Homo sapiens: one gene and its partner. The protein of the gene in region 1 purifies or fractionates together with the protein of each later gene. This does not show direct contact. Each region holds a gene or a part of one and is shown in the gene's direction. Other genes may lie near its edges.

What was found. The genes of interacting proteins can lie anywhere in the genome.
Region 2: the proteins of SLC22A4 (region 1) and SPPL3 purify together in Homo sapiens (affinity purification with mass spectrometry; 2 studies listed by BioGRID and IntAct, with this or other methods). This does not show direct contact.

What each region holds. Positions count from the first base shown.
Region 1 is NC_000005.10:132,339,247-132,343,191, forward strand, and holds part of SLC22A4 (solute carrier family 22 member 4), read left to right. Parts: intron 1-1,318; coding exon 1,319-1,454; intron 1,455-3,945.
Region 2 is NC_000012.12:120,902,902-120,906,501, reverse strand, and holds the start of SPPL3 (signal peptide peptidase-like 3), read left to right. Parts: upstream 1-2,143; 5' UTR 2,144-2,634; coding exon 2,635-2,657; intron 2,658-3,600.

The sequences.
Region 1 (3,945 bases):
TTTACCATTTGTATTTTCACTTTATGATATCTTTGTAATGAAGACAATTTTAGTTTTTATATACTCAAAGGTGTCAATCTGAAATGAAACTACAGAGGTGTTTCAGCGGCATGTTCAATCTGATGTAGGATCTGACACCCCATGCCTGGTCCTCATTAAGGACTCTACTGGTGAGAAATGCAGACACACCTCATCAATTGGGCAATTGGTTACCTACTGGTACACACGTACACACACACACACACACACACACACACCTGAAAACATGTATGAATTCTCAGGAAAGGTATAATCCAAACCCTTACAGAGAAAGAGAAACATTTTCCTAACAAACATATTCTGCACAGTTGCCCTGTGCCACACCTGAGATAGCAGATTATACAGAGTGGTGTTATTTTTCCCTTTGTCCTTCCCTGTACTTTCAAACTATTTCAAACTATGCTCAGATGGTCCAGTGGTCAGACACTGGTACATAAGACAGGGAGTCCAAGAGTCTCCTACTCCACACAGCTACTCCTGTTAGTGACACAGAGGCCTCAGAGAAGCTGCAATAACAATATTTTCCTTATGTTTTGGGTCAAATGAAATCCATGGGTGTGCTGTTCCTCTGTAAGCTCTGTATGTATACAGGGGCAAAGCAAGATGAGGATCTGTTTTTCTCCTGTGTGAGTAAAGCTTCACAAAGAGATTACATATTAACCCAAGACATGTAAGTGCTCCAAAAAGAAGCCAAATCCAGGCACACAGTGCCTTTACAGAATGTGCCTGATACTTATAATTTACTGATTTAATCTGAAGTGAACATAATACTTAGTTGTTTTTTTTTTTTTTTTTTTTTTTTTTGAGTCTCATAGCCCTGTGGACCTAACTTTCCACTGCAGCCTACTAGTTTGGGCAAAAGCAGAGTCATGCCAGACCTATCATAGCCAAAACCTATCCCTGAAACATCCTGGTTAACCTCCTTCTCCTTGATGTCCTCCCATCCCCCATTTCCAATTACCTCCACCTTAAGAGGAGAACTCTGGTAGGCAAAGAACTCTACCAAAGGAACATCTGTCACACATGACTGAGTAGTAGCTTAGAGGATACCAGTTGACAGGAAAGAATGAAAAGCCTTATGATAATGCAAAAGGATTATAGACATGCACAATGTCATCTGCCAAAAAGAAACTGATATTTTGCTTACTTTTTTTTCTCTGAAAATGTTCAGATTTAAATCCATTCTCTTATACTGTTCACCAACTTCACAAAATGATGCTCAAGAGTGCCCAGAGAGTCCTCCTATCTGATTGATGTTCTTATGTCCCGGGCTTTACAGGTGCTTACAACAGAATGCTGCCCTACATCGTCATGGGTAGTCTGACTGTCCTGATTGGAATCCTCACCCTTTTTTTCCCTGAAAGTTTGGGAATGACTCTTCCAGAAACCTTAGAGCAGATGCAGAAAGTGAAATGGTAAGTAGGACTTTTAACAAAATGATACCAAAATGCCTTAGGGAGAATAAGCATGGAAGAATAGCTAGGAAGGTTCTGAAATAGAAGAGTAATAAGTAGAGACTAGCTCTATCAGATAATAAAGCATATTGTTGGCTGGGCACAGTGGCTCACGCCTGTAATCCCAGCACTTTGGGAGGCTGAGGCAGGTGGATCACCTGAGGTCAGGAATTTGAGACCAGCCTGGCCAACATAGTGAAACCTCATCTTTACTAAAAATACAAAAAATTAGCTGGGTGTGGTGGCAGTCACATGTAATCCCAGCTACTCAGGAGGCTGAGGCAGGAGAACTGCTTGACCCAGGAGGCAGAGGTTGCAGTGAGCTGAGATCACACCACTGCACTCCAGCCTGGGCAACAAGAGCAAAACTCCGTCTCAAAAAAAATAAATAAATAATAGGCCAGGCGCGGTGGCACATGCCTGTAATCCCAACACTTTGGGAGGCTGAGGCAGGCGGATCATGAGGTCAAGAGATCGAGACCATCCTGGCCAACATGGTGAAACCCTGTCTCTACTAAAAATACAAAAATTAGCTGGGCATGGTGGCACACACCTGTAGTCCCAGCTACTCAGGAGGCTGAGGTAGGAGAATTGCTTGAACCCGGGAGGTGGAGGTTGCAGTGAGCCAACATCATGCCACCGCACTCCAGACTGGGCAACAGAGCTAGACTCTGTCTCAAAAATAATAATAATAGTAATAAAGCATATTGTTGAGCAATAGTAATTAAAACAATGTGATAATGGTATAGGAATAGAAACCAATGGAATAGGATAGAGTTCAGGATAAAACCCAAGAAAATATAAAAATTCAGTATGTAATAAAAAGTAGCAAAGTCAAGGGGGAATAGTTATTCAGTAAAAGGTATTAGAACATTCAGCTAGACATTTTGAATAAATTAAAAAGTTGTCTCTTTAAAAAATGCATTGGCTGGGCATGGTGGCTCACACCTGTAATCCCAGCACTTAGGGAGATTGAGGCAGGCAGATTGCTTGAGGTCAGGAGTTCGAGAACAGTCTGTCCAACATGGTGAAACCCCATCTCTACTAAAAATACAAAAATTAGCCAGGCATGGTGGCGCACCCCTGTAATCCCAGCTCGCGGGAGGCTGAGGCAGGAGAATCGCTTGAACCAGGGTGGTGGATGTTGCAGTGAGCCGAAATCGCGCCACTACACTCCAGTCTGCGTGACAGAGCGAGACTCCGTCTCCAAAAAAAAAACACATCAAGATAAAATCCAGACAGTTAAAAAATTTAGGCCTAAAAATGTAAAATCATAAATATACCAGGAGGAAACAAACATTTTTATAACCTTAGAGAAGATCTTACTGAGCATAACATAAAATCAAAGAACCATAAAGGAACAGATTGATATATCTGATTGTACATTTTTTAAATTATTGGCAAGGCAAAAAGAAACCACCCACAAAGACAAAAGTCAATAAGCCAGGAGAAAATATTTGCTACACAAAACCTAAACATAAGGCTAATATACTTAATATACAAAAAGCTCATAGTAACCAGTGAGAAAAAGACAAACAATTCAGTAGGAAAACCAGCAAAGGACAAGAACAGACAGTTTACAGAAGAAGTCACTTCAGTGTCCAATATATACATGAAAAAAGTTATTTGTCCACATTAATAAGGAAATGCAAAAATAAAACAATTCAACATCTTTTTTTGGCTTATGAGATTGCGCAAGGGTTTTTCTTCTTGACGCAAACCAATTCTGACACCTATTGAGTGTCCTATAATGCAGTTCAATTTTGACAATACCTAAATTTAGCATCAGACTCCACAGGTGTAAAGACTCAGTCCCACAATACTGCCTTGCTTCACTTGCCACTCACAAATGTCAGGTCCCCAGGTTACCCACATTTCTCTCTGACTTTGCTACCAAGTCTGGGGTTCCAACAAATCCCCTCCTTGGGTTTGATTATTTGCTAGAATGACTCACAGCACTCAGAACACTGGCCACTAGCGGTTTCTTACAAAGGATACAAATGAACAGCCAGATGAAGAGGTACATACAGAGAGGTCTGGAAGGGTCCTGAGTGCAGAGGTTCTGTCCCTACGGAGTTAAGGTGCACTGCCCTCCTGGCATGTGGATGTGGTCACCAACTCGGAAGTTCTCCAAACCCCATCATTTAGAGGTTTTCATGGAGGTTTAGTCATGTTGGCATGATGGATTATTAAGTCTATCCCCAGCCTCTCTCCTCTCCCCAGAGGTTCCAGGCTTCTAATCCAGGCTTAGTCTTCTGGTGACCAGCCCCCACCCTGAAGCTATCTAAGGGCCCAGCCAAGGGTTGCCTCATTAGAACAAAAGAAGCTTTTATCACTCCCTATCACTCCAGAAATTATAAGAGATTTAGGATCTCTATGTTAGGAGCCAGGGACAAAGACCAGTATCTTTTTATGACACCACAGCAAACATTTAAAAGATTAGTGGTATTTA
Region 2 (3,600 bases), on another chromosome or scaffold:
GAATGTTTGTATTTTTAGTAGAGATGGGGTTTCACCATGTTGGCCAGGATAGTCACGACCTCTTGACCTCATGATCCACCTGCCTTGGCCTCCCAAAGTGCTGGGATTACAGGCGTGAGCCATCGCGCCCGGCCTGGACCTCAATCTCATCAGTGAGCCTTTTCCCAGGGCTCTCTGATAGAGCTTTGGAGGAAACACTTGGAACCTAACTGGTCCTGGCACCTGGCAGTGGGGGAATAAGGAAGGAGAGCTTTGCTTCTGAAGGGAAAGTGTACTTGGCTTTCTCTTTAAAGGGTTTCCCTTGGGGAACAGGCAAGCGGCAGATGTATGGGCAATGGCCAACTGATCCATTTGGAGATAGATTCAGGGTGTGGTGTTCCCTGTAAGCCTGGGCAGGCCCTGGGAAACTGGAGCAGAGCTAAATTCTGGCCTAAAGTTGGGCAAGCTGCAGAGAAGCTTGAGTACGTTGGTTTCAGGTGTGTGAGTTTTGCCTTCTGCAGAGAAACAGGGGGGTGAAGGGTGGGGGTGGAGGGGTGTCCAGGAGGGTTAGTGTATCTGTTGCCCAGGCATGTTTCTAAATTCTGAAGCTGCACTGGTTAATCATTTTTATTCATGAACACAGTAACTGGCAAGGAGGCTTAGCTGGGCCCTCAAAGTCTGGCCTCAGTGCACCTTCTCAGTATATTTTCTCAACACTCCAGCACAAATCACCCATCCCACTCTCGGATTCAAGCTCACCAGGAATTGGGCCTTACTTCATGCCATTCTTTCTTTCTAGAATGCCTTTTCTTTTTTTTTTTTCTTTTTCTTTTTCTTTTTCTTTTTTTTTTTTTGAGACAGAGTCTCGCTGTTGCCCAGGCTGGAGTGCAGTGGCGCAATCTCGGCTCACTGCAAGCTCTGCCTCCGGGGTTCACGCCATTCTCCTGCCTCAACCTCCTGAGTAGCTGGGATTACAGGCGTCCACCACCACGCCCGGCTAATTTTTTGTATTTTTAGTAGAGACAGGGTTTCACCGTGTTAACCAGGATGGTCCCGATCTCCTGACCTCATGATCCACCCACCTCGGCCTCCCAAAGTGCTGGGACTACAGGCGTGAGCCACCGCGCCCGGCCAAAAGAATGACTTTTCTTTGATAAGCCTCTCACCCTTTCAGACGGCCTCATCCACTCCTGGGGAAGCATTCCGCAGTACCTGGGGCCTCAATTAATCTCTCTCTTCTCTCTCCATCTAAGCTCCAGATTCACTTTGTTGGTCTCTGGTCTAGCTCTACCGTGTTTATTTCTGTGCCGGTTTCCAGACCTCCAAATGGACGGTTTCCTGAGCCTTCTGCCCTTGCTGTTCCCTCTGCCAGGAACTCTTTTCCTGTGGATCTTTGCAAGGCCAGCTCTCTGTCATCATTCAATATCAGCTCAAATGTCACCTCCTAAGCGAGGCCTTCCTTGACCACCCTATCTAAAGTAACCCACACCTCTGCTCACTCTCTGTCCCCTCACCTTGTGTTACAAAATGTGTTTTTGTAAAACTTAGCAGCATCTGAAATTATCTTATTTGTGGGCTTGGACTATGTCTCTTCCTTTAGAATGTAAGCTCTAGGAAGGCAGAGTGAGTTGACACATGGTTGGCACCCAACAAATATCTGTTGATTGATTCTGTGAAGGCAAGCGTGGGGTATTCGACTTGGTGCCGGGCCTGGGCGCAATAAAGGTTGGCTGCCTGGAATATTTGCTACCTGAATGAATGAACCAAGGAACATACGAACGAAGGAATGCAGCCCTCTGCCTGTTGACTGACAGGTTGACTGACAGTTGGGGGGCCCGTGGCCAGCAGACTGTTGACTGACGGTTGACAGCTGAGTGGCAGCCAACAGACGCGCATCGGGGTTCCCGATTGGCTGGTGCAGCAGCCCCTCGGAGAGGGGCGGAAGAGGGTACCCGAGGCGACATCTCCGCGTGGGGAGGGGGGCGGCACCAGGCAGCGGGAGGCGGCCCAACTGCTCTGGCTGTGCGAGCAGCAGCCGCCTAGAACCCAGGAGCCGACGTCTCTGCGCATGGGCCCGGCTCGAGGGGCGGGGCGCGCATCACGTGAGCGTGTTTTGGGCACGTGACCCGCGCGGGGCCAAGGCTCGCCCCCGCCCCCGCCCCTCCTCCCCTCGGCGGGTGTGATCGAGTGGCCTCGCCTCATCGCCTAGCGCCCCCCTCAGTCGCCGCCGCCTCCGCCCGCCGGCCATGTCCCCCGGCCGCCGCCGCCGCCGCCCGAGCGCGGCGCTCCCGCGGCCCCGCGCGCAGTGAGCGCGGGCCCGTCTTGCCGTTCGCCCGCCCCAGGGCCCCCTTGTTCTCCGCGCCGCCGCCGCCGCCATGTTGGGTTTGGAGCTGCAGCGGAGCCGCCGCCGCCGCCGCGGGTGAGGGAGGCCGAGAGCGGAGCCCGCCCCGCCCCGGGGCCCAGGGAGCGGGGCCGCTTCGGAGCCCGGCCTCTCCCCGCCAGCCGCCTTCCCGGCCCGCCGTGCAGCCAGCGAGCCAGCGAGCGAGCAAGCAAGCAAGCACCGGACCCCGGCCGCGCCTTCAGCTACGGCCCGAGCGAGCCCGCCGCCGCCGGGCCCGGCCACAGCCTGCAGCGGAGCCCACGAGAGGCAGCGCCATGGCGGAGCAGACCTACTCGTGGTGAGTGCGGGGCTCCGGGAGGCCGGGAGGCGGCAAGGGTGGGGGTCGGGGCGCCGGCGCGGCCCGCCGAGGGGAAGAGGAGGAAGAACAGGTGCGTGTCGTGGGGGGGGGGCGCGGGTTGGGGTGCACGCCCCCCTCTTCCCCACCGGAGGGGGCGGCTGGCGCGCACGGAGGGCGGTGAGTGGCCGGGGACCTGGCGTCCGAGAAGGGGAATGGAGGAGGAGGCAGCGGCGGATGTCATCTGGCTATGGGCGGAGCAGGTGATGGAGAAGGGGAGCATGACCCCGGGGGTGGGAATCCCACGGATGGGAAGTTGAATCCGACAGGCACCCCGGAACTGACTCGTGGGGGTGTTTCCTGGGCAGGAGGACTCGAAGGGGTGGAGAGAGGCAGGCCAGGGCAAAGGTGGGCCGCTGGGCTGAGAGGAAGCTCTAGTGAGAACAGGTGATAGAGGCAGAACTTCTAAGTTGGGAGAGTGGAGCGGCCGCCGCTTGGCTCTGGGACAGGGAGCGCAGGGAGAGTTGGTGAGGTGGGCAGAGGCCCGGGAGTGAGGGGAGGAAAACTGCGGGGGTAGAGTCCACGAACCTTGGAGGGGAGTCACTGGTGAAGAGGTTGGAAGAGGAGCCTGAAGAACCTGTTTCCTTTTCCTTCTGGAAAAGGAATTCGTTGGTGACAGTGGGGCATGGGCAGAGTCTTTGTAAGGGTTGGTACTATTATTTTCAGAGGAATGGCGCCCAGGGCCAAGTGTGGAGGTGGAGGACCTGCAAGTTAAGTTCATTTCTGTGGGGCTTTTAAAGTTAGTAAGTAGCTCGTTAAGGGCCGAGAAGCGAGAAGCTACTGTGTAGTTTATGGGGTGACAACCTACATATCCGGAGAAGGGAGTGCCAGGGTTTGGGGGAAGGAACATGAGGGGTCTCCCTTTAGCATGTAGAGGTGGGATATT